Regions from separate parts of the Homo sapiens genome. Here all the other regions are linked to region 6. The links come from fine-mapping of genetic effects on plasma protein levels. A gene starts in region 6. Each other region holds a variant in brackets. All regions are shown on one strand. Distances are between the middles of the regions.

Region 1 (4,072 bases), 200 kb before region 6:
TTGTGACCTGACATATGGTCTATCTTGGATAATGTTCTATTTGCTGATTAGAAGAACATGTATTCTGCAGTTGTTGGATGAAATATTCTGTAGATGTCTCCTAGGTCCATTTGTTCTAAGCTGTAGGTTAAATTTATTTTTTCCTTGTTGGTTTTCTTTGTGGATGACATGTCTAATGGTGAGAGTGAACTGTTGAAGTCCCCAAAAATTACTGTATTGAAGTCTATTAGATTTAATAATATTTGCATTATGTATATGGGGGCTCTGGTGTTGGGTGCATATATCTTTAGAATTGTTGTATTTTCTTGCTGAATTGATCCCTTTATCATTATATAATATGACCTTCTTTGTCACTTTTTAATGCTTTTGTCTTAAAGTCTGTTTTATCTGATATAAGTATAGCTACTTCTACTCACTTTTGGTTTCTATTTGTGTGATATATCTTTTTTCATTCCTTTCCTTTTAGTCTACATGTGTTTACATGTGAAGTGAGTTTCTTGTATGCAGCATATAGTTGGGGCATTTTCAAAATTCATTCAGCCAGATTTTATCTTTTAAGTGGAAAATTTAATCCATTTACATTCAAGGTTATTATTGATATATGAAGACTTATTTCTGTCATTTTGTTAAATGTTTTCTGATTGTTTTGTATATTTTTCCTTTCTTTCTCTCTTGTAGTTTATCATTATGGTGTGCTGGTTTTCTATAGTGGTAACATTTGAGTTCTTTTTCTTATTTCTGTGTTTACTCTACCAGCAAGTTTTAGACTTTTGTATGTTTTCATGACGGTAGCTATCATTCATTCACTTCCAGGCATAGGACTCCCTTAAGTATTTCTTCTAAGGCTGGTCTAGTGATGATGAATTCCCTCAGGTTTTGCTTGTGTGGAAAAAACTTTATTTCACATTTTTTAAAGATAAAGAATAATGTTGTTAGGTATAGTATTATTGGCTGACAGGTTTTTTGGCCCCCTTTTTAGGGGGGAAATATATTATCCCATTCTCTCCTGTATTATCCCATTCTCTCCTGGCCTATAAGGTTACTGCTGAGAAATTAACTGTTCTTCTGATCGGGCTTCCTATATATGTGACCAGAGCTTTTTCCTTTCTCTTACTCTTTTTAGAATTCTCTGTTTGACTTTTGACAGTTTACTATAATGTGCTGTGGAAAAGACCTTTTGAGTTTTTAATTACCTGTGAATTTCTAAACTTCTTGTATCTGAATGTTAAATCTCTTACTAAATTTGGGAAGTTTTCAGCTATTATTTTGTTAATCAGGTTTTCTATACCTTGGGTCTCTTCACCATTTGGAACACCCCAAATTTCTGTTTTTGGTTGCTTTATAGTGTCCCGTATGTTCTGTAAGTTTAGTTCATTGTTTTTTATTCTTTTGTGTGAGTAGGGCATGGGGACGGGGGCTCTGGCTGGGTTATTTCAAAAGGTCTGCCTTCAAGTTCTGAGATGCTTTCTTCTTTTTGCTCCACTCTACTGTGGAAGCTCTTGAATAAATTTTTATTTTGTTCATTGAATTCTTCACTTTCAGAATTTCTGTTTGATTCTTTTTTCTATTATATCTGTTTCTCTGGTGAATTTTTCATTCATATCCTCAGTTGATTTCTAACTTTTTGTATTGTTTATGTCCTCTTGTGTCTTACTGAGCTTTTATAATATCATTTTTAAAAATTATTTTTCCCACGTTTCATAAATTTTTTTTCCAGTGAAATCTGTTGCTAAAGAATTATTGTAATCTTTTGGAAGTGTCATATTTCCTTGTTTAGTCATGTTTCTTGCGTTTTACATTGATATCTGCACATCTTTTGTAACAGTTGCTTCTTCATACATTTTGGATTGGCTTTTTCCTGAAGATATTTCCATGGTTTTTATTGGGTAGGACACTTTAGCTTTGCTTCTAAGTGTATGAAGTAATGTAGTGTCTCTATGATTTCTTCACCTCTAAGCAGTATCAGTGGTGTGTGATTTCCCTAGTGGCTTAGGCTGTGGTTGTTAGTGGAGGCTATGATGATGTTTTGCTGCGGTTGGGGATGTTAGGTGGGTGTGCCCTCAAACCCTGATGGTGGCAGTGGCAGGGTAAATGTACCTCTCCTTGTGACCCCAGGCAGTGTACACAGGCACTAGTGTCAGCAGGTACAAATGGGCCAGTTCTTAGGCCTCCATGTGGCTGGCTTGGGTGCTGGCAGTCATAGTGGTAGGCCTGGCCAGCGGGCAGGTCCTTCCCTTGGCAGCATGTGTGGAGTGAGTGTTGACAATAGCAACAACACAGCAACTCTAAGGCTCTGAAGCAACACACATCAGTGTTAGTGATGGCTGGGTAGGCCAGTTCCCTAAACCCAAAGTGGTACATGCAAATGGATGCTGGCTGTGG[T/C]GGTAGTGGTAGACTGAGTGGGTCCATCATCAGGCCCCTAGGAGGAGTACATAGAGGCCAGCAATGGTGAACAGAGTGGGGGTAATCCCTAGGCCCCCAGGCAGTGTGCTTGGGCACTGAGGTAAGCAGTGTCAAGGTGGGTGGGTGTATCCTCAGGCCCCTCAATGGAACACTCAGGTGATGGCTGTGGTTGGCAAAATGGAGGGGTCCCCAGGCCCACTGGCAGAGTGCTCAAGTGGCTGTGGCAGTGGCAGCAGTGGGCCAGGGGAAACTGTCCTCAGGGTATGTGCAAATGGCTGGGCCATAGGCAGGTTGCTTACAGTGGCTCCAGCCATAGGCAGGAGTTCTCAGGATCTGGGAAGTGTGAGATTCAGCCCCTAGCTGTTGAGGGGTGGCAGCAGCAGTGGTAGCAGCAGCAACAGGGAAAACCAGTAGTAAAGGGGATGCAAGTATGCGTGGCTCTGCTGCCCAAAAAGGGCAAAGTCACTGTCAAGTGGCATGTGCTTTGGCCCCAGTGACAGCAACAACAGATGCAGTGAGCAGTAGCAGACCCTGCCCTCAAGGCATGTGCATGGCAGCCTTACTGCTGGGGTGGGAACAGGGTTGCTGTCCATGATAACTGCCCCAGGTAGACAGTTTTCAAGCTCTAAGAAACCCACACTTTGGCTCCTTTTTCTCTGAGGGCAGCCTCTCAGCACACTGGGGAGGCAGCCTCCCTATTGTGCTGCACTGTCCATTCCCCAAGATGCAGGACACTGTGTGTGCTAGAGTGCTAGGGAGGCTCTGCTGGGTCCAACTGGCATTGCACTACTGAAGCCCTACAGGTGAACACAGGGAGATGTCAGTGGGACTCTAGAGATGTGGAAATGCAGGGGCTGTTGGTTTCCAGTGCAGGATGCAGTCTGGTGGTGGCTGGGCTCTCCAAATGGCAGAGAGCTACAGCTGCCTAAGACCTGGGGACTGGGACCCACATGAGCTCCCTCTGAAGCAGTGCTGTTACATGGTCTCTAGGCACCTTCCTACGCTAGTCTCAGGGCCTATGAGGGTTGAGGGGTTTTCCTTTGGCTATGGTTATAAAATCCATGGTCAGAATGTCAACCGCTGTGGATCTCTCACTAACCTTTTTCTTGCACTAGGGAGCCACTCTGGGTTCCCAGCCAATCCCAGCCAAGCTTGCTGCCTCACTTTCTTCCATTTTCATGCCTCAGTTATTTCCCATCATTTATCTATTGAATTCCAGCGTTCACTCTTAGATGTTCTTCTTGAAGTGTGATTACTTGCTATTTTTATTTTTCTTTGTGGAGGAGGTGAGTTCTTGATGCCTCTAGTCAGCCATCTTGAAGCCTCTCCAGCCTTTTGCAGTTTTACTTATCTTCTGACACCAAATCTGTCAAAAGAAAAATTTAAACAAATTAAATGTAACAGAGTTTAACTGATCAAGAAAAAAATGTGTCTCAGACAACATCAGAATCAGAACAGATTCAGAGAGGGTCTGTGGCTACCATATGGTCAGATATGATGTATGGTCAGAAAAAGAAATGACATACAGAAAATGAAAGTGAAGTACAAACATCTGGATTAGTTACACCTTGGCATTTGCCTTATTTGAACATGGTTTGAACAATTGGCTCCTTATGAGTGGTTGAAGCATGGCTGCTGTGATTGGCTAAGACTCAGCTATTGTTACAGA
Region 2 (4,072 bases), 150 kb before region 6:
TTCCTAGTCACAAACCAAACAGAAAGCAAATTTCATCAGAGTTTAGAATGGTTAAAACCAACATAGCTGCAATATTTTTATTTTTGTTTTAAAATTTTGTTTAATCAGTAAATCAATCAGAGTTGACCATTATGTAATCCACAGACCTTGAAATAACAGATATATTTCTCTGCAGATCAATATCTATATACATTTTTAAGATGAGTAGAAATTCTCCTGAAGGTCATAAAGAAAAAGTATGTCACATAATACAGTAAATAAAAATAATAATTGTTATTAATTTTTTCTGCTTATTATGTTCCAGAATCTGTACTAAGCATTTTAGAGGATTATTTTATTTAATTCCCACAATAATCCCTTGAGAAATATACTACAGTTATTATCTTTAATTCACAGTTACTGAAAATGAGACACAAAGAGGTTAAGAATTTTGTCCAAGGTCAGGCAGCTAGCGTGACTTAGCAAGGGTGTAATTAAGAAAAAATATGTTTTTCTTATCTTATGGGAAATTTGGAAAAGCAAATATCTACATTCTCTTTTTAATTAAAAAATATAAAATATAAAATGTGAGTCTCTCTTAAAGCAGCGAATCAACTTTAATTAAATTGAAACAATACACAATCCTTTGTTGTTCAGGCTCTATATTATTATTATCTCTGCTGACAGCAAAAGCTAAGAATAGAAAATATTTCTGATCCAAGTTGGTAAATTATGAATCAACCTGCTAAAGAATCAGAATAGACTAACAAATGGAATTAAATGTGATTATTGTATATTACATATATAATATAAAAATTTCTTATTGTTATAGTTTTACTAAGATTCTACCAGTTTCAACTCAAATATAACATTTAAAATCCAAGCTTAATAAAAGAACTTGGCATGAGATGTTTTCATAGGAAATAGTGACAATTCATATTATTTTTAATTAAGTGTAAATGAGATGTATTATTTCTGTATTTCATTTTCCTTCTAAAAGTTATCTTTAAAGTTTTTTTTCTTTCTTTTTTTCTTTTTCTTTTTCTTTTCTTTTTCTTTTTTTTTTTTTGAGACGGAGTCTCGCTCTTTCGCCCAGGCCGGACTGCAGTGGCGCGATCTCAGCTCACTGCAAGCTCCGCCTCCCGGGTTCACGCCATTCTGCTGCCTCAGCCTCCCGAGTAGCTGGGACTACAGGCGCCCGCCACCACGCCAGGCTAATTTTTTGTAGAGACAGGGTTATTTTTTGTATTTTTAGTAGAGATGGGGTTTCACCATGTTAGCCAGGATGGTCTCGATCACCTGACCTCGTGATCCGCCTGCCTCAGCCTCCCAAAGTGCTGGGATTACAGGCGTGAGCCACCCCGCCCGGCCTAAAGTTTCACTTTTTCTGAAGTTGATAGCTATTACTAACTGTTTTGAGCAAAGTTTTTTGAGATAGATTAATTTATAAAATTAGGAAGAAACTAAAGTAGTTGCGAAAGTTTCTAAAAAGATAATAAAGTAGTTGTCTCTATGTTATAATAGAAAATGAGAATGTGAATGCAGATCATTTTGATTCTCAGAGTTTGTGTTTTCAGCAAATATTACCTGAATATTGATATATAAATTAGAATTCCCCAAAGGAAAACATTTAAAAATGTTAAAATTAATAAAATCATTAACTTACATACTTGTCCTTAGTATCAGGACAATCTCCAGTGGATTCAACAGAGCATCTGCAGTTTTGTTGAACAAAGTCTATATTCTGCAATATAGACTCATGGTGTGAGCTTACTGGTCACATTCTTTGTTCCTTCTTGGAGCTTTGGGAGGCATTTATAAAAGAGCTGCTGCAGTAGAAGGACTGAGTTGTATCACCCTGAGGATTTAAGTTTCTATGGAGAGAATCAAATTCACTTTAGTATAGGGATTTAGTAGGTTTCCCTAGCCTTATTAATAAAATACTAGTACGACATGAAAAATGCATACTTTGTCTTAAAATAATCCAATTAAGACACTATTTTTGCATAGCAAAATTCTTTACCAAACACCAGTTGCAAATCAAGTGAAACTGCTTTGGCAAGAGGTGATCATAACGCTCTCCTACTCCTGCCCTTTCCTCCTACTCCAGCTGAAAATACTTGCTGCAAATGTCCTTTTATAGGAGACTTTGACTCCAAGGTGTAGAAAAGGAAAGGAAAAGGTCAGATATATATGTCTTGTCTATAACTGAAACCTAATACCAGCACAAAAGCCTAAAAGAACCGATGTTTAGAGGGCGTTGGCAGGAAACTCTTTGCTCTGCTATCATCTGTTTTAAGCTACTTTGATACATGATTTATTTTTTCAGCTTCTACTCTGCTACTATTCAACTGCAAATGCAATTTGTTATATTGTACACTTCAACACCTTGAACAATATCTTAATTATTTTTGAAATGTATTACAAGTTCATAAAGAAAACAGCATTTTGTTTCTTCAGTCATCTACTTTGGATGAACGTGTTATTTAGAAAAGAATAAATGGGAAAAATGATAT[ATT/T]AAAAATAAAAATTGCATATTAACTTTTTAGATCAAATAAACCAATTTTAAGCATTTTCATGGACATTTATAACGAAAATAGATAAACATTTAAATACAGATGATTTAATTCAGTATTTTGTTTCTTGAAAATATTGGAATATGTGTTTTAGATAATGCATATATTTCTGTTATTGAAAAATAAGCTTTCAATAGTCAGCTGACTTCATATGTAAATAATAATACCATTTTAAACTTATTCAAGGATTTAGGTGTCCTTAAATATGATTTTATAACTTATTTTACTCCCTTAAAGTAAATATTTATGGCATCTGTAAGTCATTGTAAAATTGTAAAACTGGCATAGCATAGTATACAGATTGTCCTTTGTAATATTTTATAGTATTCACATTTGTATTTAATCACAAATTTGATACAATTTAGCCAAACCTTCAATACATTTATGAAGAGGGCACTAGTGAGACTTTATACAATGGAATAAAATAACAAAATGTGCTGACAGCATTTTTCCACTCAAAGAGGTATATATATTTTTTATACTATCTAATTCTTTAACTAACTTTATTTTTTTAGCATCCAGTGGTGGAGAACATTACTGGAAGTGTGATTAAGGCTATTATAAGATACATAAACTGTATGGCATAAGCATTTTCAACTCAACTTCACACTCTACATTGTTTATGAACTTAGTATGCCAGCTTTTTAAGTGTGGTGGGATCTGGTATTCCACACTTATATGTCTCTGAATCCCACCCTTGTACTGATGCCAAGATGAACTGAAGCAAGGATGAATTTTTCTCTTACATAGAAACATGAATATATTCCGAACTGGAGTGAGCTCTCACTAGCGGTTTGCCTATGGTGATTACTTTGTGCCTTGTAATGGGTCATGTAGTATCCTCATAAGGGAGTGTCTGTGTCCTAGACCCTCTCCCATTCCAGTACCTGTAAATGTCACCTTATTTTGAAATAGGAGCTTTACAGATATAATAAAGTTAAAGAACTCAGGGTGAGATCATCTGAATTTAGAGTGAGTCATGGGTAGTTGGGACACAGAAACACAAGCAAGGTCATGTGAAGATAGAGACAAAGGTTAGAGTTATGCTGTCACAAGCCAAGGAGTGCCAGGAGCCACCAGAAGCTAGAAGAGGCAAGAAAGGATTCTTCCCTAGAGGCATCAGAGGAAGTATGCCTCTGCCTCCACCTTGATTTTGGTCTTCTGGCCTCCTATAATTGAGAGAGAATTTTTTGTTTGTTTGTTTGTTTGTTTTACTATTTTAAGCCACAAATTTTGTAGCAATTTCTTTTGGCAGCACTGGGAAACTAGTTAATGCCTCTATTATTTGGTTAAACAAAAAACATTATTAAGTATTTTTAAAACAATGTATAACAGTGTTGATTATGGTAAGCATACAATTTATAATTAGATAGGTTTCTGTGTAAAATTTCATGTTACTGTATTGATTTGTTTTAACCACACAAGACTTGCTTGGATGTGGTACTATTGAATACCATCCCCATTCCCTCCTGTCCCACAGCTTTTTGAAATTTATGGGGCTTTGTTCTAGACTGAAT
Region 3 (4,072 bases), 130 kb before region 6:
CTTGGTGACTAAGCTTTCATGTGGTAATCTGAGGTGAATATTGACATAGAATTAGAATTATAACTCACATAAATTCACACAAAAACATTTTTACATTGCCTACTGATTTTTATACATATAACCAAGAAATAAAGTATATGGTGGCTACCTTTCTCTAGGGATTTATAGGGTAATTAGACAAACTCTTCCAATAATTATAAAAATAAGAACTGAAATAACAAGTGCATATTCTGAATTACAAAAATCATTCAAAGTAACAAAAAGCTTATATCTTTGATCCCAATAACCTATTTTAATTTTCTTTTTAAAATAAAAATGTTAGAGGCAAAACAAAAGTGCCATAACTAAACCAAGTACAGACAAAGGAAATAGGAATGAGAAACAGTGTATGTGTGTTTGTATGTGTGGGCATGCCTATAGGTATAGTTGTGTGTGAATTAAAGTGAACACACTTGTTAATTGAATAAAATACAGTAAGTGTTTGTATATGTATCTGCATGTTTGTGTTGTATTTTGGAGTTGTTATTCAGCTTTTACAGAATGTTCAAATAGAAAACCAAATAGGATTGTCACCTATATTGCATAAATAACCAGAGAAAAGTCACTTAAGTGGCCATAAAAGAAATGTTGAAAATAAATGCAGAGAATTATATTTAGAGTAAGAATACCCACATGTATTACAGTCCCCAAAAAGCAATTAAGCAGAAGAAATTGCTTTTAGAGCTTGGAAAGATTTAAAGTGTTACCATTAAAGTTTGAGTTGGGTGTTACTCCATGAAGAGAATATATCCTTAAACACTGCTGCCCTGTGCAGAACATACTCACTTTGTGGACAAAGACATAAAGGCCCTGATACTGGACCTGTTGCTGGTTAGAAATGTCTTCCCATGACAAATGGGATCTAATTAAACTAAAAGGCTTCTGCACAGCAAAAGAAACTACCATCAGAGTGAACAGGCAACCTACAGAATGGGAGAAAAATTTTGCGATCTATCCATCTGACAAAGGACTAATATCCAGAGTTTACAAAGAATTTAAACAAATTCACAAGAGAAAAACAACCCCATCAAAAAGTGGGCGAAGGAAATGAATAGACACTTTTCAAAAGAAGGCATTTATGTGGCCAAAAACATATGAAAAAAGCTCATCATTACAGAAATGGTCATTACAGAAATGCAAATCAAAACCACAATGAGATACCATCTCGGGCCAGTTAGAATGGTGATCATTAAAAAGTCAGGAAACAACAGATGCTGGAGAGGATGTGGAGAAATAGGAACACTTTTACACTGTTGGTGGGAGTGTAAATTAGTTCAGCCATTGTGGAAGACAGTGTGGTGATTCCTCAAGGATCTAGAACTAGAAATACCATTTGCCCCAGTAATCCAATTACTGGGTATATACCCAAAGGATTATAAATCATCTACTATAAAGACATATGCACACATATGTTTATTGCAGCACTATTCACAACAGCAAAGACTTGGGACCAACCCAAATGTCCATCAATGATAGACTGGGTAAAGAAAATGTGGCACATATACACCATGGAATGCTATGCAGCCATATAAAAGAATGAGTTCGTTATTTGCAGGGACATGGATGAAGCTGGAAACCATCATTCTCAGCAAACTAACACAGGAACAGAAAACCAAACACCACATGTTCTCACTCAGAAGTGGGAGTTGAACAATGACAACATATGGGCACATGGAGGGAAACATCACACACTGGGGCCTGTCGGGGGGTGGGGGGCAAGGGTAGGGATAGCATTAAGAGAAATACCTAATGTAGATGACAGGTTGATGGGCAGCAAACCACCATGGTACACATATACCTATACAATAAGCCTGCACCTTCTACACATGTATAACTTAAGTATCATAGAAAGAAATGTCTTCGTTAATAATATTTCTCACCTTTTCTAGATATAAATTTAATTCACAATTGGGCAGGGCATGGTGCCTCACACCTATAATCCAAGCACTTTGGGAGGCTGAGGCAGGCGGATCACCTGAGGTTAGGAGTTCAAGACCAGCCTGGGCAACATTGTGAAACCCCATCTCTACTAAAAATACAAAAATTACTACTTGGGAGGCTGAGATAGGAGAGTCGCTTGAACCCAGGAGGCAGAGGTTTCAGTGAGCCAAGATCGCGCCACCACACTCCAGCCTGGGCAATAGAGCGATGCTCCATCTTAAAAAAAAAAAAAA[AT/T]CAAAATAAAATAAAATAAAAAATAAAAATAAAATTTAATTCACAGTTGTAACCAGCCTAAATTAAAAATATTTCTTAAGCAAAAGATTGAGACTTTATGTTTTAGATAATTGTGTTTTTATGACAGAATACCTACACACACAAACAAACAAACTAAAGAACTTTTTCTGTTATATACCAAATCATACTTTTATTAGTGTGGTTAATTTTATCTTTCTCTCTGTGTGTTTCTCTCTCTCATCAATTTATTTATTATCTATCTCTTAATCAATCCATCCATTCATCCTTCCATTCAATCTTCTATTACTTTTAATATTTTTAAATAAACTGCCTTGTTGTTGTGATTTGTATTAATGTAGACTGGCAGAGCATGATATGACAGACTTTTATTTGCATGGAATCTCCTGAAATCAGCTAATAATTCACTATGGACTCTATTTACTCAGATTAATAACTGTGCAGAAATGTCATTATCTGAAGAGCACAAATCTGGGGACAGACAGAATTTTAGTCATGGGCTCTGTCATTGACTGACTGTGTGATTTTGGTTGCTTAAATAATCTAGACTCTAGTCTCCTCAATTATAAGACAGGAATAATAATGGACTTAACTTTATTATATGTTAAGCAACATAAATTGCTTCGGGTATTCAAAAAAGATAATTAATGCTGTGGATTAGGAATCTGAAATAGAAGCTTGAATTCCCAGGAGCGAAACAAATTTAGCAATACTTGCACGACTATTGGAGAACCAGGCCACTTAACAGGTATACATATGCCCCTCTGGCTACCTCCTAGATATTTTCTGCCACATCAGCAGTAGGCAGAGGACCAGTTGGCTTAGTGTCTATATTGTTTACATGTGGCAGCTCAAACAATGTGATATGAATATGAACTAAGGAGGGAGACACTTCACACTTAACATCTGTTCTTCAGTTTCCCCAACAGGATTCCTCCAAATGTGAAAGGAAACTCATCAATAACAAGCTGAGAAATGAGTCTAAACAACTGACATTTTGGAATAACATATTTGACATTTGTGAGGTCCACCGGTTGTGGCTTAATCAAGAAAGCCATCAGATATCCACAGTATCCATCTTTTAGGCATACACATCTAAAAAACACATCCATTTGTCTTAATTTAAATCCATATTTTAACTTTCAAAATATTATTTCATGGATATTTTGCCACACAATTATGCTAGTTTTTACTATTTTCTCCCCTAATGTGTAAAAGAACAAGAGAATACAAATTCCTTGGCATGTCAGTTATTTAGTCATTTCAGATTTTGATATTTCCAGAAGTCATAAGAGGATTCTTCTCTCACAGATGTAATTATAAAACACATTTGATTTACCAACTTTTAGTCTTCTGTTTTCTACAAATTAGCTGTCTTGTGCAAATGGAGAAATAGCATATGTATTTGGTACTAAGTTTCTCTCGTAGTTGTCAGAACCTCACCAGGTCTGATTTTATTGTTTTGTAAGAACTGGGCTTTAAAAAAAGTCAGACCATATGATAATTTTGATATTAAAACTCTTCTGAAAGACTAAGTGAATGAACTAGTCATCTATATTCACTGATTAAAAACAAAATAAGACAAACTTACTCCATAGTATAGTACTTTGGGTTTGTCTAATTAAAAAAAATTCATTTACAAATACCATTTCTGAGGAACAATAGCATTTCTCTAGGATACATCTACATACATGCAAGTGAAGAAAATAGCTTTTGTGTTTACTTTATGTCTTGTAGGAGTTGTATAGCTACATAAGAGTATTGTAATGCAAGAGGTACATCATAAAAACTGCTTTGTTATATGTTGTGTGCATGTATATTTGTGCATTTACATATCAAC
Region 4 (3,964 bases), 150 kb before region 6:
CAGGTCACATCCATTAGTGAAGTCAATGCTGTGAAGAGAGACATTCAAACCTGGGTCACTGATAATATCATTTTCAATTTCTGACCCAATCAATTCTGGGTCTCCCAATTCCTCTCTCCGTGGTCTTATTGTAGTAATACGTTTTTTAAACTGTTGAAGTCACATTGAGCGGAAATTTCCCTTAATTACAACTCTTAATATTTTAACTATTTATGCTAAGTTTATTTGTTCCAGAAAAAGTACTTTAATTCACTTTCATTTTTGTAGGACTTGAATTTTTTAGGGCAGTTTCAGTTTCACAGAAAAATTAAGAGGAAGATAGAGATTTACCATATATATATATATATAGTTATATATATTATATATGATAATATACCATATATTACTATATATGTCTTACATGTATGTGGAGGCAGGGTGTATGTTTTTTTATATATATAAAATATATATATACACACACCCTGACATAATGTGTATATATAATATATATATAATTATATATATTATAAATATATATTATATATGTAATATATCCTGCCTCCACATGCATGGCCTCCTTCATTATCATATCCTCCTCCAGAGTGGTACAACTGTTAAAATTGCCTCACCTACATTAATACAATTTTATTACCCAGTGGTAAATATACATAACATAAAAGGTACCATTTAATCATTTTCAATTCTAAAACTCAGTGATATTGAATACATTCACAATGTTGTATAATTAACACTGTTTTCATAACTTTTGTATCACATCAAACAGAAGTTCTGTACCATTAAGCACTAATTCTTCATTCCCCTTGCCCCAGCCTCCATGCTCTGGAAACATGCAATCTGCATTCCCTCTACATGAATTTGACTATTCATGATCTTTCATATAAGTAGAATCATATACTGTTTGTCCTTTTGTGTCTGGCTTATTTTATTTAGCATAATGTTTTCAAGGTTTATCCATGTTGTAAACATGTATCAGAACATCATTCCCTTTTTATGGCTAAATAATATTCCCTTGTATGTACATGCCACATTTTGTTTATCCACACATACAGGTTTGTTTTCACTTTTTGACTCTTGTGAATAAGAATGAGTGATGTTATCTGGCGTGTGCATGCAGCCACTTTCTTACTAAAGACCAATAGCATCAAGCACTCTACTAATGGTTGTTATTTATCTGATTAGGATCCAGAGTTCCAAAAAGGTTAATTCTTATTTTTTGCAGTTTAATGGCAGTTTTTGTGGAGGGACTGACTTCTAAAACTTCCAATCTTCTAAAATCCACTTTAAAAGAATGGTTTAAATTATGTGCTTGTAGGATGAAATTGATAAAAAATTATTTTACCAACTTTCAAAATTGCATCACAGAGATAATGTCCTTTGACTATTGGGTGTTCACATATTTGGCATGTTATAAACAACTTTCTGGAAGATAAAGGCCTTTTGTCTCATACTTAATATTAAGACAGGAACCAGTGTGCTAGCAATGGCTTTTGGGTTTGATGTGATATATTTGTATGTAATGATTTTTTTAAAAGTTAGAGTGAAAAATCCTCTCATACAAAACAAAATAGTTTTTACTGTTATGAGAAAGCAGTCATTAATCACTTACAAAACATGCAAGTATCTTTATGATATTTGGTG[A/T]TTTATTTTTCTCCAGTCATCTTGTGGAAAAAGTTTAGGTCTCTGAAGATTTCTCAGTGCGTCATAACTGACAGCAGCAGGAATGTGGTTTTGCTAAAGGCAACAGAAAAGCAAAACTGTCTCAAGGTTTTAATATTAATCCAAAGGTTAAACTTTCTTACCTTAATGTTGCTGCTTTCTGTATGCACATCCCAAAGGAGGTAGGAAGGTGGAAAGGACGGAGGAAGGTAGAAAATGTAGAAAATTAGAAAATTAGGTAAACTTAAAAGGTAATAAGACTAACATTCATTCATTCACATTAAGCTCCTACCTTGTACCACATTCTGTTGTAGGCCCTGTGGATATAACACAGGGCCTTTCCTTTTTTCCTGTGAAAAAAAGGAAAGAAAAAAATATATGCCTTTTTGGAGCTTACATTCTCTTGGAAGGAGATATATAATAACATAAAAAATTAAACTATATAATATGTTAAGTGTTGCTAAGTGCTATGGAGGAAAGTAAAGCAGACAAAGCAAATAAAGAACACGAGAAGGAGATACAATTTTAAGTAGGGAAATAAGGAAGGCATGACAGAGACAGTAGCATTTGAGTGAAAGACTTGAAGAAGGTGATGTGGTTTGACTGGGTCCCCCACTAAATCTAAAGCTTGAATTGTAGTTCCCGTAATCCCTTAATGTGTCATGGGAGGGACCTGGTGGGAGACAATTGAATCATGGGGGCAGTTACCCCCATGCTGCTGTTCTTGTGATATGAGTGAGTTCTCATGTTCTCTGAGGGTTTTATCAGGGTTTTTTCCCCCATTTTGCTTGGCACTTCTCCTTGCTGCCACCATGTGAAGAAGGATGTATTGCTTCCCCTTCCACCATGATTGTAAGTTTCCTGAGGTCTCACCAGCTGTGCAGAACTGTGACTCAATTAAACTTCTTTCCTTTATAAATTACCCAGTCTAGGATATGTTTTTATTAGCGGCATGAGAAGGAACTAATCCAGGAGGTAAGGAAACAATCCAGGGGGGAATTTGAAGACAGGTGTTTTCAGTCAGAGAAACCATGTACAAAGCATCTAACGTGACAGTGCTATGGTCTGAATGTTGACAACCCCCCCAAATTCATACGTTGAAGTCTAATTCCAGTATGATACTATTAAAAGTTAAGGTCTTTGGAAGGTGATTATGTCATGAATACAGAGCCTTCATGAAGGAGATTGGTGCCTTTATAAAGGATGCCTGAGGGGATTGGTTTGTCCCTTCCACCATATGATGACTCCACCATATGAAGAATAAGATGGGTCTATGAACTAGGAAATAGGGCCTCATCATATACGGAATATGTCAGCACTTTGATCTGGGACTTAGCTTCCAGAATTGTGAAAAATAAATTTCTGTCATTTATAAGCTACTTAGTCTATGGTATTTTGTTATAGCTGCTCGAATGGACTAACACAGAGACAATTCCCAGGCTGCCCAAAGAGCACCAGGAAGTGTTGGGTGCAGTAAAGATGGAACAGAGGCACAAGGGGAAGAGCAACAGGGCTGTGATCAAAGAGGTGTGCCTGGTGGGGAGCATGAGTAGAGCTGTATAATCTGTACAATAATGACTGAGAGTGGAATTAGAAGTCCTTAAAAGTGAGTGAGCAGAGTGGCATGATCTCTATGATATTATGTTATATTCTTGCTTGGGTATTGAGAATAGACTGAAGGTGAGGGCTAATGCAGAAGCAGGAAGGGGGATAAAAATTCAGATGAGACATGATGTTGGCTAGGCCTGGGTGGATAACAGCAGTAGTAAAAATTATTTAAATGTTTTGAAGGTAGGTTTGCTGAGAAGTAAAGGATGTGTGGAGATTATTGGATTGAGAATTGTATAAGGACTGTATTGTATATTGTATGAGATTGTAGATCCAGGATGAGTCACAGTATTTTTGAAGTTGTAGTAAATGGAATGAACTAGAAAGATAGAAGTTAATGTTCAGAAGGCAGGAAACTTAAAAGTTAGATTGTAAAAATTTGCAATTAGGAGTAATAACATGGTTTGAGCTGAGATCATGAGATTGAATAGCTAGATACTGAAGATAGCAAGTACGTTGGAAATGACGAGGTCAAATGTCAAAGAAGATAAGTAATTTAAATGAGATATCAAAATAATGGCAGTAAGTCAGGTTGTAAAGACTTCAAAGAATGAGGGAAAGTGACTAAACATTGGGAGAGTGATCAATATAATCAAATGGTATGAGATTCCAAGCTGGAGGGGTTTGAGGAGAAGGAAGTAGAAGTATTCTGCAAGAGGACACTTATTCTACTTCTAGAGGCAGTGGTTAGAGCGCTGAG
Region 5 (4,072 bases), 140 kb before region 6:
CCTCATTTATTTTTGGTATATACCTATAAATTGAATCACGATGTCATTGGGTATTTGTGCAGTTTAACTTTATAAGAAATTGCCAAACTTCTTTAAAATATAGCTGTAAATTTACTCTCCCACCACGAATGTATGAGATTTTCTTTGTTTCATAGCCTTTTCAACACTTGCTATATTCAGTCCCCAATTTTTTTTCTTAAGAGATGGGGTCTTGCTCCATCACACAGGCTGGAGTGGAGTGGCACAATCATAGCTCACTGCAGCCTTGAACTCCTGGGCTCAAGCTATCCTCCCATATCGGTCTCCAGGTATTTAGCCATTTTAATTTTACCAGTTCTCTTGGATATGTAATGACATCTCATTGAGGTTTTTATTTTCATTTTTTCTGATGACCAACTATGTTCAGCACATTTTCTTTTCCTGATTCCCCATTTGGCTGTCTTCTTTTATGAACTGACCGTTCAAGTCTTTTGCCCACTTCTAATTGAGTGATGTATCTTCTGCATAACAATTTGTAGGATTTATTTACTTTCCATAGAAATATTTTGTCAGGTCTGTGTATTTCAAATGTGTTATCTCACTGTGACATTTCTATTCATTTTTCATTGAGGTAAAAACATAACTTGTGATCTATCCTCTTAGTAAGGTTTTAAATGTACACTATAGCACCGTTAAGTATAGGCGTGATGTTGCACAGAAAATCTTTAGAACTTACGCAACTTACACAACTGAAACTTTATACCTGTTGAACAGCAACCCTTCTTCCTCCTTCCCCTAACCATTCTATTCTCTATTTCTATGAGTTTGACTATTTTAGAAAGCTCATATGTGTGAAATCATGCAGAATTTATCCTTCTGTGACTGGCTTATCACGCTTAGCATGATATCCTCCAGGTTCATTCATGTTCTTGCAGATGGCAGAATGTCCTTGCTTCTTAAAGCTGAAAATATTCCATTGTATTTATACGCCACATTTTCTTTATTCATTTATGTGCTGATGGACATTTAAGTTTTCAGATTTTGTTGTTTTGTGAGTAATGCTGCAAAGAACATGGGTATGCAGGTAACTCTACCACATCCTGATTTCCATTCTTTTGGAATGGAAATTCCAAATTACCCCTCCTAATAAGTGGTAAGTGATATCATATTTTGGTTTTTATTTGTATCTCTTTGATCATTAGTGACGTTGAACATCTTTTCATATACCTTTTGGCTATTTGTATGTCTTTGAAGAAAATTTATTCAATCATTTTGCCTCCCTTTTTAAGTTATTTTTTTCTGTTGTTAGGAGTTCCTTATATATGTAATGAGGTTTTTTTGAATAAATGAATATAAGTTTAATATAGTAAAAACATTAACAATTTTTATTTTTATGTTTAATACATTTTGTGCTCTCGAAAAAAAATCATTATTTATCTCACTCAAGATCATTATGATGTTCCTCAAAGTATTCTTCTAGAAGCTTTAGCATTTATATTTGGGTCTGTGATCCATCTTACATTGAATTTTGTGCATGATATGAGTGAGATATTAAGATTAATGAAAATGCTAATTATAATAGATTCTCAGGTCCTAGCCAAAGCTTTTGTATATTGGGATCTCTTGAGATCTAGGTTATTTAAAGGTAATAGACGATCAGTATTAATGAATTTGTTTTCTTTTTCCATCTGGTGGTTCTCAACCTTTGTTCCATATTATCATCAAGTGGTTTGCTTGCTTGCTTCTTTTTGTCATTGCTTTTAGTAGCACTGCCTCAATCCTACCTTCAAAAATTCTAATTTGATAACCTGGACATCAGGATTTTTGGGGAGAAGGGGACAGGGTCTCACTTTGTCACCTGGGCTAGTGTACAGTGGCATGATCATAGCTCACTGCAGCCGCAAACTCCTGGGCTTGAGGGATGCTTCTGCCTCAGCCTCTCGTGTAGCTTGAATTACAGGCTTGAGCCACCATGCCTGGTGACATTGGGATTGTAATGGGTCTCCAGGTGAATCTAATATAAAGCCAAGTTTAGGAATCATTGACAAGCTCCAAAAGCCTGGAAAAAATGTATACATGAAGATAGAGGTTAGTGTTACTCTCT[C/A]CTTGGATGAAAACACCTGACAAGTTTTATTGATTTATTGGGAAACAACGCTGGAAGCAGTTTCTCCTCTGCCTCTTTAATCCCTTGGCCAGTGCAATCTTGAGTTAAGCATAGACTCACTATTAAGTCTTGTAGGGTGAATACATCTTTACTTCAACTTTTCATCCACTTTATCTTCATCTCGGAGAATTATTGTGAAAAAAAAAGTTCTCAGTGTATAACTCATATTAAGTAAAAGACATATAATATATTGTAATAATTCAGCAAATATTGCTTGTGGTGTTTTACCTACTTTACACTTGTGGAAAGTTTAAGGAAAAATTTTAAATAGTCCTACATTATTTTCATAGAAGAATCACAGTAAAATAAGAACTTTGCAAGTCCACCATTTTACTACGTTGCATTATTTGAAAAGAAAACTAATTTTGAAGTGTCTGATGATTTCAAAACACAGTTCACTATTATTTAATTAGTGAAAGGAGATGCATGCGAGGATTTGAAATAGAATTTTTAACATTGACTTAGATACTTTCCCTAAATGTATTAGACATAAAAGTAAATGGTATTTATATATTTGTTTGTAAGATGCTATAATTTTAAATTTAAATGTCTATGTAGCTTTTTCTGAAAGAAGCTGTTCTACTATCATAGAAGCAATTTTGGGGCATTTCTCTTACTTGATTGACTCTTTTCTTATCCAGATGCTACCCATTTTCAAGATTGCACAGACTCCACTTCTATAAGGGAACTCAGCCCACAAGGCTCTCATGTACGTCAGTAACATCTATATCTTTATTATACCACATATGCCTTGCCCTATCAAATGAAATTGTATACCACGAAGTCAGGACCATATCTCACCTCCTCTGTAAACTCCACAATGCACAGCATAGTGTTACTCATGGGAAAAATGAAATACTTTTGATTGAAATGGGTTAACATTCTTCTCATGTTAAGGAACATACTTCTTTAATTGTACCTGTTGTTATGCCGGTTGTAAGACTTACTCTTTTCTCCAGAGTTGATATCAATAATTTCAAAACATATAAGAATTGAAGATAAATGGGGAAACAAACAATTTATGAAGGTCAAAACTATGAAGTAAATTTCAGTTCATGGTTATTTGGTAGAAAAACTAGGTTGGAGAGTATGGTTCACATTTGAGACCAAATTAAATATTATTTAATAGATTTCTTTCACACTTAGTTGAAGGAAAGCATGCAGTAAAAATTTAGCTTGACCAAAAACCTGACTTGCTCTTGGCAAAAATTGTGGTGGAGAGAGAGAGAGAGAGAGAGAGAATGAATAACCTCTACCCTGTGGGAGGGTCTTTCCATTCCAAATGGCACAAGTAGAGAATCTGATGAATCCGAGCCTAGGAAAGTCAAAAAGGAAGCAGACTGGCATCCAGTCATTGAAGACAATAAACCTGAACACTAAGAAGACATGATTAAATAAATGTCAGGTTCTGAACAATTAAACTGGTTACTTCTGTTACATTGAAGTAAAGAGAGAATACCTTGGAGTCTAACATAGTTTTCCAAATAAAAAGATAATGAGGCAGAAGATGACACTTTGTTTACTAAATTTTCTAGTTCATACTGAATAGTTTAAGTAGAACTTGAAAGCCAAGGTCTCAGGGAACCATTTTTAAAGTGCTTTTCAAAGAGCTCATATTAAAATAATTATTTTATATGTAAATAACAAATAATTAGATATGAGGCTCACAAATGAAATATTTATGTTCATATAATATGGCTAATGTATGGTAACAATAGTATTAAATCTATAGATCTATGATGGGAGAATTACTAGAAAAGCAATAGTAGGTCTCCCAATCCATGAGCATGGAATGATTTTCCATTTGCTTAGATTATTAGTTTTCAGCATACAGTCCTTACACACATTTTGCTAAATTTATTTCCAAGGGTTTATTTGTATAGTATTGTGAATATAATTATTTTCTTAATTTTTTTAAGAGATAAAGTG
Region 6 (4,072 bases):
GAGATTCTGCATGATGCCAGTGTCCTTGGACCCTCTCTGAAGAGGACTTTTTGAGAGGAGAGTGTTTGTGGAGCCGAGGTTTGTGCCTGTACCCTGGAGGTAAGCAGGTGAGGGCAGCAAATCCTAGTTCCTCTCAATGTAAGGCAGAACTTCCCACTTCACACTGTGGGAAGTTCTTCAAACTTGGAGTTTTAAAAGAATCCAAGGGGCTACAGTGCATGATGAATGTGCCCCGATTTCCTGGAACTTAGAGTCGATGAACACTTAACTTATGCAGGTAAAGGCAGAAGTGTGTGGCACCGTTGGTGAGTGAGGAGGCAGCCAGACAGCACTACAGCTCTTCTAAGGAGCAGGAGAGTGACCTCAAGCTGTGTTAGGGGTGGTGAGGCTGATTTTAGGGAGGGTAGAGGATGGTGCTGGAAAGGGCCACTGTGGCCAGCTCAGATGAGCTTCAAGGATCCCCTGGTTAGGAGCATGAACTCTCATCTGTGGGCAGAGGGATCTCAGGTTAAATTTTAGGAACTGTAGCAAGCTGTGGCGAGGAGTGAGGGGACTTTTTGGGATAAAATTGTCTTATGAGCTCAATTGCATCCCCTAAAAATTCATTGGTTTAAGCCCTAACCCCCAATATCCCAGAATGTGACTGTAATGGAGACACGGCCTTTAAAGAGGTGGCTTAGGTAAAATGAGATAGTTAGAGTGGACCCTAATCCAATACAGCTAGTGTCCTTATCAGAAGAGGAAATTTGGACACAGAGAGAGATGCCAGGGATGCATGCCATGTAAGAGGCAGCAAGAGCATGGCCATCTGCAAACCAAAGAGAGAGGGCTCAGAGGAAAACAAGCCTTCCCCAATGGCTTGACCTCACATTTCTAGTCTCCAGAACTGTGAGCAAATAAATTTCTTTAGTCAAAGCCACCCAGTTGCAGTGTTTTGTTGTGGTGGCAGAGCAAACAGATAAAGTAGTAAGTCCCTCCAGCACCCTAGGAGGTTCTGCTTGTTGCCATTCCCCAAAGGCCATCCTAGCCATGATGAGGGCAGGTGCGGTTGTTTGGGAGGAGACCACTGTGGAACAAAGAGAAACAAGGCTTGCTTGATGCAGCAGGGAGTAGACTACAGATTCAAGAAGGGCTCTAGAAAGGTCCAGCAATTCAGCTTGTCAGGGAACCCCGAGCTGTATGTAGTTCTTGCTCTCCTGTGCCCTGCAGGATGGCTTGACCCATTTCTGTTCTCATGTCAGACCCTAAGGGCAGGGTCATCTGGGCCACAGACCCAGGCCCGGTGGGCCTGGTGGGCTGACCTGTGGGCTATTCTTATGCCTTCAGGAAACCCACCTTTACCACCTGGCTGTTGTGACTGGCATCGCTGAGGCTGTTTCTTTGTGTATAAAATCGAATAAGGACACATCACGTGCTAGCAATCCACCAGCATAGGGCGAAGGCTCAGCAAAGAGAAGTTCTCTCCTCCTCTGCTCTTTTAGGTCAGCAGCAAATGCAGATCGGGGTGGGGACAAGGTAAACACATAACTTGGGTGGAGATGTGATTGATTAATAACTCATAAATCATCTGAAACCATACTTTCCTTTTGATAGTCAACCCTCTGTAAACACTCAATGTGTTCTCACCTTGTTATCATTCCCAATGATGTCGAATGCGTGGTTGCCCTCTCCAGTATAAAAGTTTGATGCAGCTTTGCCTGGATGTACCTGTCTATAAGGAGTCCTGCTTATCACAATGGTAGGTAACTGGTTTTATATATAAAGGCTAGAAAAGCAAAAGAGAATATGTATTCCTATTTTAATATGCGTGTGCTTCTACCACATAGCATTGAATGGTAAATGTGACCTAGTTAGGAACCTTATGTTATTACCTGCAATTCAATGTGCAGAGTATGAGAGTCTGAGAGCTTGCGAAAATTGTAATGAGTTTAGCACTAGTTCTGTTCTCTAAGATCTAAGTTGTTTTTCCTTCCAGTAATTCTGGGGTTCAATTAGATTTCATAAGTGTCTCTAATTCTTGGGTCCTATGTGAGTAATTTGAAATTAAAAATAATTTCAGAGCTACATGACTGCATCGTTTTTGAGATGAGGGAACTGAGCCTGGGGAGGGGAAGAAGCTGCCACTGGGGTCTCACCGCAAGCCTGTGAATGAGCTGAGATAGGAACCCAGGCATTCCTCTCTCCCTGCCAGGGGCTCCCAAACTTGGCTGTGCAGTGGAAACTCCGGGGGAATTTTGAAGAACACTGACACCCATCTTCCACCCCGACACTCTGATTTAATTGGGCTGCAGTGAGAACAGAGCATCAATTTAAAAAGCTGCCCAGGTCATTTTAATACTCAAGTTTGGGAACCATTTCCCTAGGCCCTTTTCACTGTATCATGTGTTAAGGAAAAATCTTGGGTTTGGGGCTGTGTTTGTTGGTTTATTTGTTTGTTTTTGAGACAGGATCTCACTCTGTTGCCCAGGCTGGAGTGCAGTGGTGCAGTCATGATTCACTGCAGCCTGGACCTTCCTGGGCTCAGGTGATCCTCCCATCTCAGCTTCCCAAGTAGCTGGGACCACAGGCGAGTGCCACCATGCCCGACTAATTTTTGTATTTGTTTTAGAGATAGGATTTTGCTATGCTGCCCAGGCTGGTCTTGAACTCCTGGGCTCATGCAATCTGCCCACCTCAGCCTCCCAAAGTGGTGGGATTACTGGTGTGAACCACTGTGCCTGGCCAAGAAAGAATTTTGCTTCAAAATTTATAAAAACCCATGCAGGCTTTTCTTGTGTCTTAAACTTGATCTTTCTTAAAACATTCTTTACTAACGCTGGGGACTGAACTGGGCTGCTCTGGGGGCTGCAAGGGAGATGAGGCAAGAAACAGCCAGCCAAGTGGGAGGAGCCAAGGGAGGTGGGAGAGGGTCCTCAGGAGGGGACCCCGGGCCTCCTCTGGGCCACTCGGCAAGACAAACTTGCTCTCAGAAACTGTCCGGAGGCAGAACTGGGGATGGTAAAACAACAGTGGGGTGGGAGGTCCTCCCCATCTCCACTAGACAGGCTCCTCCAGCCTATACTCTATGCAGCCTCACAGTGAACTTAGCAAGCTGCAGAGCTGGCAATACCTCTGCCTGCCTAAGATCCTGAGGACCCCCAACTCTTTATTTATTTATTTATTTATTTTATTATTGTTATTTGTAGTAGAGATGAGTTTTTACTATGTTGCCCAGGCTGGTCTCTAACTCTTGGGCCCAAGTGATCCTCCCACCTTGGCTTCCCAAAGTGCTGGGATTACAGGTGTGAGAAATTATGCCTGGCCAGACCCCCAACTCTTGATCATGGGATAACCCTTCCAGGAGCAGTAATTTACCTAAAGAGATACAACTTTTTTTTTTTTTTTTTTTTTTTTTTTTCTGAGACGGAGTCTCTCTGTCGCCCAGGCTGGAGTGCAGTGGCGCAATCTCGGCTCACTGCAAGCTCCACCTCCCGGGTTCACGCCATTCTCCTGCCTCAGCCTCCTGAGTAGCTGGGACTACAGGCGCCCGCCACCACGCCCAGCTAATTTTTTGTATTTTTAGTAGAGACGGGGTTTCACCATGTTAGCCAGGATGGTCTCGATCTCCTGACCTCATGATCCACCCGCCTCGGCCTCCCAAAGTGCTGGGATTACAGGCGTGAGCCACCGCGCCCAGCCAAGAGACACAACTTCTAAGGATACTGCCAGCCTGCTTCACCTCAAGGCTCGCTGTACCATCTAGAAAATCCTAGCCCATTCTGGCGTCGTGGTGTAATCTCCTGCACACATCAGGAGCTCAGGGTTACTAAATGCAGGAAAGGAAGACACAAAGGGAAGGAAGGCTGGTGGCAGAATAGAAGACAGGAATGAAAAAAGCTTTAGAGCCTCTCTACTCAGGGGTGGACCTCAGACCAGCAGCGTGGGCATCACCTGGGAGCTTCCGTGTAAGTCTAAAGACCTACTGAAGCAGAATCTGCAGGTTAATTAACAGGCTGTCTGGTTGGGCGCGGTGGCTCACGCCCATAATCCCAGCACTTTGGGAGGCCGAGGCGGGCGGATCATTTGAGGTCAG
Region 7 (4,072 bases), 140 kb before region 6:
AAATTAAGAAAACAAAATACATCATGCTCAATAATAAGGATTCTGAGTAGAAACTCACCAGTTCACCTTAGCTATATTTTCCCTTTTGGGTTTCTTTTCTTTTACTTTTTTCTCTCTCTCTCCTTTTTCTTTAAAAATTTTGGAGTGTAAACATATACATCATCTTAATTTGAGTCCTTATGTGTTGACGGTGTGCAGGGAAGAATGGGAAAGTAACTGTTAAGTGGAGCTCAGAAAGAGCTAACAAATTCTTGAAAAAGTGAGATTATTGCTGGTCTTTCAATTTTTTTTTTTAACTTTCTGTTTCCTCACACTCTTCCGTACTAAATGAATTTTATATATATATATTTTTTTGGTTGTTGTTGTTGTTGTTGTTGTTGTTGTTGTTTTGTGATACACAGTTTTGCTATTGTTGCCCAGGCTGGCATGATCTTGGCTCACCGCAGCCTCCACCTCCTGAGTTCAAGTGATTCTCCTACCTCAGCCTCCCAAGTAGCTGGGATTACAGGCATGCACCACCGCGCCCGGCTCATTTTTTGTATTTTTAGTAGAGACGGGGTTTCTCCATGGTGGTCAGGCTGTTCGCAAACTCCCGAACTCAGGTGATATGCCCGCCTTGGCCTCCCAAAGTGCTGGGATTACAGGCGTGAGCCACCGTGCCCGGCCGACAGGTGTTTACGAGTTACAGACTATGTGCTTTGAGAATGAGGCAACCGATTTAAGGATGTAAGCATAATTTAAGGATATTGAAAATGATATAGGAATAAACTTGGTTTAGTCATTCATGGATTTATTCATTCTTCAGATGACTATGTGTGTGAATATTTAAGAATTCTAAAACCACATGGGGTTACTTATAACTATATAGGAGCCTAACACAATAATGGAATCAGAATATACTTTGCTGAAGGGAGGAGGCTTTTAAATGAAAATCTTCTCTCTACGTTTTTATGTTTCTAGCAAGAATCCACTGAAGACCCACATTTCCCCGAAGGTTAACAGCCCCCTTCTCAGTTTTTCTGGTAAAGTGTTTTTATATTGGTGGAACACCTGTCACACTCTGTATTTTTCTTATCTCAAGTAGAAAAAATTTTGCCCTTTTACTTGGGACTGTTAACAGCCCTGGTAGTGGAAAAGTAGAAGGAAATGATTCTGTGAATTTTCTGTTATATAAATTTTAGCCAATTTAGGGCTTTTGAATGAGGGGCCATACAGCCAAGGATTTAGGATTTCAGCTCAGGAAAGAAAACTACATAGGTGTTTAATTGTGTCCTAGCCATTTATTAGCTGGGTAACTTTGAGCAAGTTTTATATATATCCTTCCCATGAGTTTTTCATTTCTAATACTGGCTTAGTAATACAGTATGTTTCATAGACTTGCTGTAATAATTGATGGAGTGTATCTAATAGTGTTTATTTTACTGTAACTGGGCCACAGTTTGGAAGTACTCAATTAAAATTAGCTGTCATTATTCCTAGTATTAATATGGTGATGAACAGCTAAAGAGCATTTAAATAATTATCATTAATATGGATAAATTTTGAGTATACCTGAATAAATATTTATAATATAACTGTTGAGAATATACAAGTTTAATATTTTAGGGAAATACAATGTCAAATTCTATGAAGCTCTATTCTCACACTAAAACAATAACAGTTTGCTTTCAGATATTTTGAATATTATTGTGACATTTCCCCCTTCTACCTTTCTGGGACCTCGGATATAGGAACCATGTAAGGGTAAATATTCTAGGTCTTCGTTTTGGGACAGGGGTGATATACTACAGTTCCACAGGGGCTGAGCCAGGTTTCAAGG[T/G]TGAGAGAGCTGATGGTAAAAATAACAATGAGAGCAAAGGCCAAAATGTATGGAATATTTATTATGTGTCAGACATTTTTCACTAAGCATTCTAGTACAATATTTCTTCAGATCTATGAGGATCTTAATCTTAAGTAGTAAATGGTTTTATTATAACCACTATACAAAATAGAAACACTAACATAAAAAGGTTAAATAATCTGTTTAAATTATCTTGGATTAGGAACCCAATTAGCTGTGTCCTTAGAACAGAAGCTGGTAGCACTACACTGAACTATACCACACTTGCAAGCCTTCAGAGGAAAATTCCCTAAGAGAAAATGGTATCTATGACTCAATATTTCTTCCCATACCCTCAGTGACTTACGGTATTTATTTACTAAATGCCAAAGCAGATAGTCCAATAGGAAATATGTAGCTAAATGGCCTGGGAAGAGAAGGGAATGTCAAATAACAGGCAAAATAGAATCTGACACCCTAGGTCTCAGCAAGTGTTTTGAATGGACAATAAAGAAAGTGACTAGAATATAACCTCTGAAAAAATGTTGTGAAGCACCAATGGACTTGAAAAAATCTAGGGAGCTGATGTAAAGGACATCCACTTCATACTGACAATTGTTGAACAAATTACTTGTTGGAGATGGAGTTGCAGACAAAACAGATATTTACCACTGCTTTAAAATATGTTTATTTACTCAGGAGAAGAGTCTGGAACTGTGGTTTCAGAACGAGCTTATCCAACAGTAAGAAGAGGACTGGGGCATACCTTTTAAAATAATAATGATATATTTATATCCTAGTGTGATTTATTTACCTTTTAGTAAATCAAGTTCTCAGAAAAATAAAGTAAAAAAATCTTAACATTACATATGCAGGACTTAATCTGAATAATCATAAATTTTCATAAACATAATTTACATACCACACCATAGTAGCTGTGATATAGTAAATTCATAAGTTTTCTGACTATGGTTTAGCTCTTTCATTCTAAGAATAAAAAAGATTCTATTATGTCACAAGACATGTATCTGGATGGTTAAAAAAATCCAATCATACATAACTGAAGAAAATATAGGTATTTTAGTGGAATAAGAATGTGATATACAAAAACAGAAAAATAAATAACTTCAATGTTACTTAAAGAAATAGAACTAACAAAGATGCATCATGGAAGAGAGGATAGTTCTCTAAAAACACATAAAATAACTTTCTAAGATGAAAATTTTACATATATAAAAGCATTTGTCAATGAAAGTAATAATAATTCCATTCATGCATTTGTTCATGTATAACCAATAACTTTCTTGTGATGTCATAGAAAAAATTCAAGCATCAAATCAAAAAGCAAATTTTATTACGTAAGAAACAGTGGCCTTTAAACTGACAATATATTTGTTTGAATAAAAAATATTATTACTTTAAAATAATCAAATTAGCAAAATACATGAACATCTTAATTTTTGGTATGTGTTTAAATATCAGGACATTTACTCATATTCTTCATAAACAGAGTCATAAGTCTTAGTAGATGCTGCCATGTGTAGGCAGGTTGTCTTCTCTAATTATCCTCAGTCCCCACCATTCCATAGTGTCCCCAGTAGAGATACTACTGACATTTTTCATTTGTTGCCATAATTCAGCTGTTGTTTTTCATAGTCAGCTTGCCTTCTTTATTTTAATATTTATATACCATGTAGGCATCTCAGTGTTTCACTCTTGCTGTGAGACAGCCATAGATCCCTTTTGACCTAGAGTTTTTTATTCTTTCTTTTTCAAAATTATTTTCCCTAAAAGAATGGAACCTATAAGCCTCCAAATAGTGCATTTAAACTCAATCACATCTAGAAAACAATGCTAAACTATTCAGAAAGAATGAAGAGAATAAGTGAATTCTCCAAACCCAGAGCTAATGAGTGCCAGCTCTGAAAATGAAGTCCTTGATTCTTGACATCTGGCCTAGTGTGCCTAGGAAGTATAATCGGTTACTCTGACTCAGTCATTTTAATAATTGAAGTAAACTACTTAACAGTTAAACATTATATACTTAAAATACTTAAATTAGCTTAGATATAATCAAAGAATTTCGCTTTTTAATTCCAAATAATGAAGTGTTTGGTTGTAGGGTATTAGATCTTTCATGGAAGAAAGTAGTCCCACAAGTCTAAGTACAAATTTCAAATGTAAAATAAAACTGATCAAGCCAGAGACCAGGTTTGGCAAAAAGTATCACATGATATGACTTGTAAAATGTCA

Which allele goes with the higher level. Alleles are on the strand shown, and positions count from the first base shown. The strength of an association depends on the size of the effect and on how common the allele is.
For the plasma level of the protein whose gene starts at base 1,704 in region 6, T is the high allele of the variant in region 1 and C is the other (strong association).
For the plasma level of the protein whose gene starts at base 1,704 in region 6, ATT is the high allele of the variant in region 2 and T is the other (strong association).
In carriers of allele T in region 3, the plasma level of the protein whose gene starts at base 1,704 in region 6 tends to be lower than with AT alone (moderate association).
In carriers of allele A in region 4, the plasma level of the protein whose gene starts at base 1,704 in region 6 tends to be higher than with T alone (strong association).
For the plasma level of the protein whose gene starts at base 1,704 in region 6, allele C in region 5 goes with a higher level than allele A (moderate association).
For the plasma level of the protein whose gene starts at base 1,704 in region 6, allele T in region 7 goes with a higher level than allele G (strong association).

Evidence for each region. PIP is the posterior inclusion probability: the model's chance that the variant is causal. Protein levels are from antibody-based Olink assays in UK Biobank. Linkage for the fine-mapping came from a reference panel and not from the study's own genotypes, which makes the PIPs less certain.
Region 1: its variant is fine-mapped to the plasma level of the MSMB protein (UK Biobank, PIP above 0.99).
Region 2: its variant is fine-mapped to the plasma level of the MSMB protein (UK Biobank, PIP above 0.99).
Region 3: its variant is fine-mapped to the plasma level of the MSMB protein (UK Biobank, PIP above 0.99).
Region 4: its variant is fine-mapped to the plasma level of the MSMB protein (UK Biobank, PIP above 0.99).
Region 5: its variant is fine-mapped to the plasma level of the MSMB protein (UK Biobank, PIP above 0.99).
Region 7: its variant is fine-mapped to the plasma level of the MSMB protein (UK Biobank, PIP 0.97).

What each region holds. Positions count from the first base shown.
Region 1 is chr10:46,239,369-46,243,440 of GRCh38, reverse strand. It overlaps the pseudogene ANTXRLP1. Among named protein-coding and RNA genes, the nearest start is that of ANTXRL, 46 kb to the left of the region's middle. RefSeq lists an enhancer at 3,834-3,933. The variant T/C (reference allele first, on the strand shown) is at 2,383.
Region 2 is chr10:46,198,223-46,202,294 of GRCh38, reverse strand. It overlaps LOC124902418 (a long non-coding RNA gene), which reads left to right. Exons shown (of 2, transcript XR_007062137.1): 2 at 1-4,072. Among named protein-coding and RNA genes, the nearest start is that of ANTXRL, 87 kb to the left of the region's middle. The variant ATT/T (reference allele first, on the strand shown) is at 2,496.
Region 3 is chr10:46,176,001-46,180,072 of GRCh38, reverse strand. It overlaps LOC124902418 (a long non-coding RNA gene), which reads left to right. Exons shown (of 2, transcript XR_007062137.1): 2 at 1-4,072. Among named protein-coding and RNA genes, the nearest start is that of ANTXRL, 110 kb to the left of the region's middle. The variant AT/T (reference allele first, on the strand shown) is at 2,214.
Region 4 is chr10:46,193,267-46,197,230 of GRCh38, reverse strand. LOC124902418 (a long non-coding RNA gene) reads left to right here. Exons shown (of 2, transcript XR_007062137.1): 2 at 1-3,964. Among named protein-coding and RNA genes, the nearest start is that of ANTXRL, 92 kb to the left of the region's middle. The variant A/T (reference allele first, on the strand shown) is at 1,639.
Region 5 is chr10:46,188,024-46,192,095 of GRCh38, reverse strand. LOC124902418 (a long non-coding RNA gene) reads left to right here. Exons shown (of 2, transcript XR_007062137.1): 2 at 1-4,072. Among named protein-coding and RNA genes, the nearest start is that of ANTXRL, 97 kb to the left of the region's middle. The variant C/A (reference allele first, on the strand shown) is at 2,084.
Region 6 is chr10:46,043,901-46,047,972 of GRCh38, reverse strand. It overlaps MSMB (microseminoprotein beta), which reads left to right and starts at 1,704. Exons shown (of 4, transcript NM_002443.4): 1 at 1,704-1,738. The coding sequence starts at 1,736. RefSeq lists an enhancer at 3,254-3,755.
Region 7 is chr10:46,181,005-46,185,076 of GRCh38, reverse strand. LOC124902418 (a long non-coding RNA gene) reads left to right here. Exons shown (of 2, transcript XR_007062137.1): 2 at 1-4,072. Among named protein-coding and RNA genes, the nearest start is that of ANTXRL, 100 kb to the left of the region's middle. The variant T/G (reference allele first, on the strand shown) is at 1,820.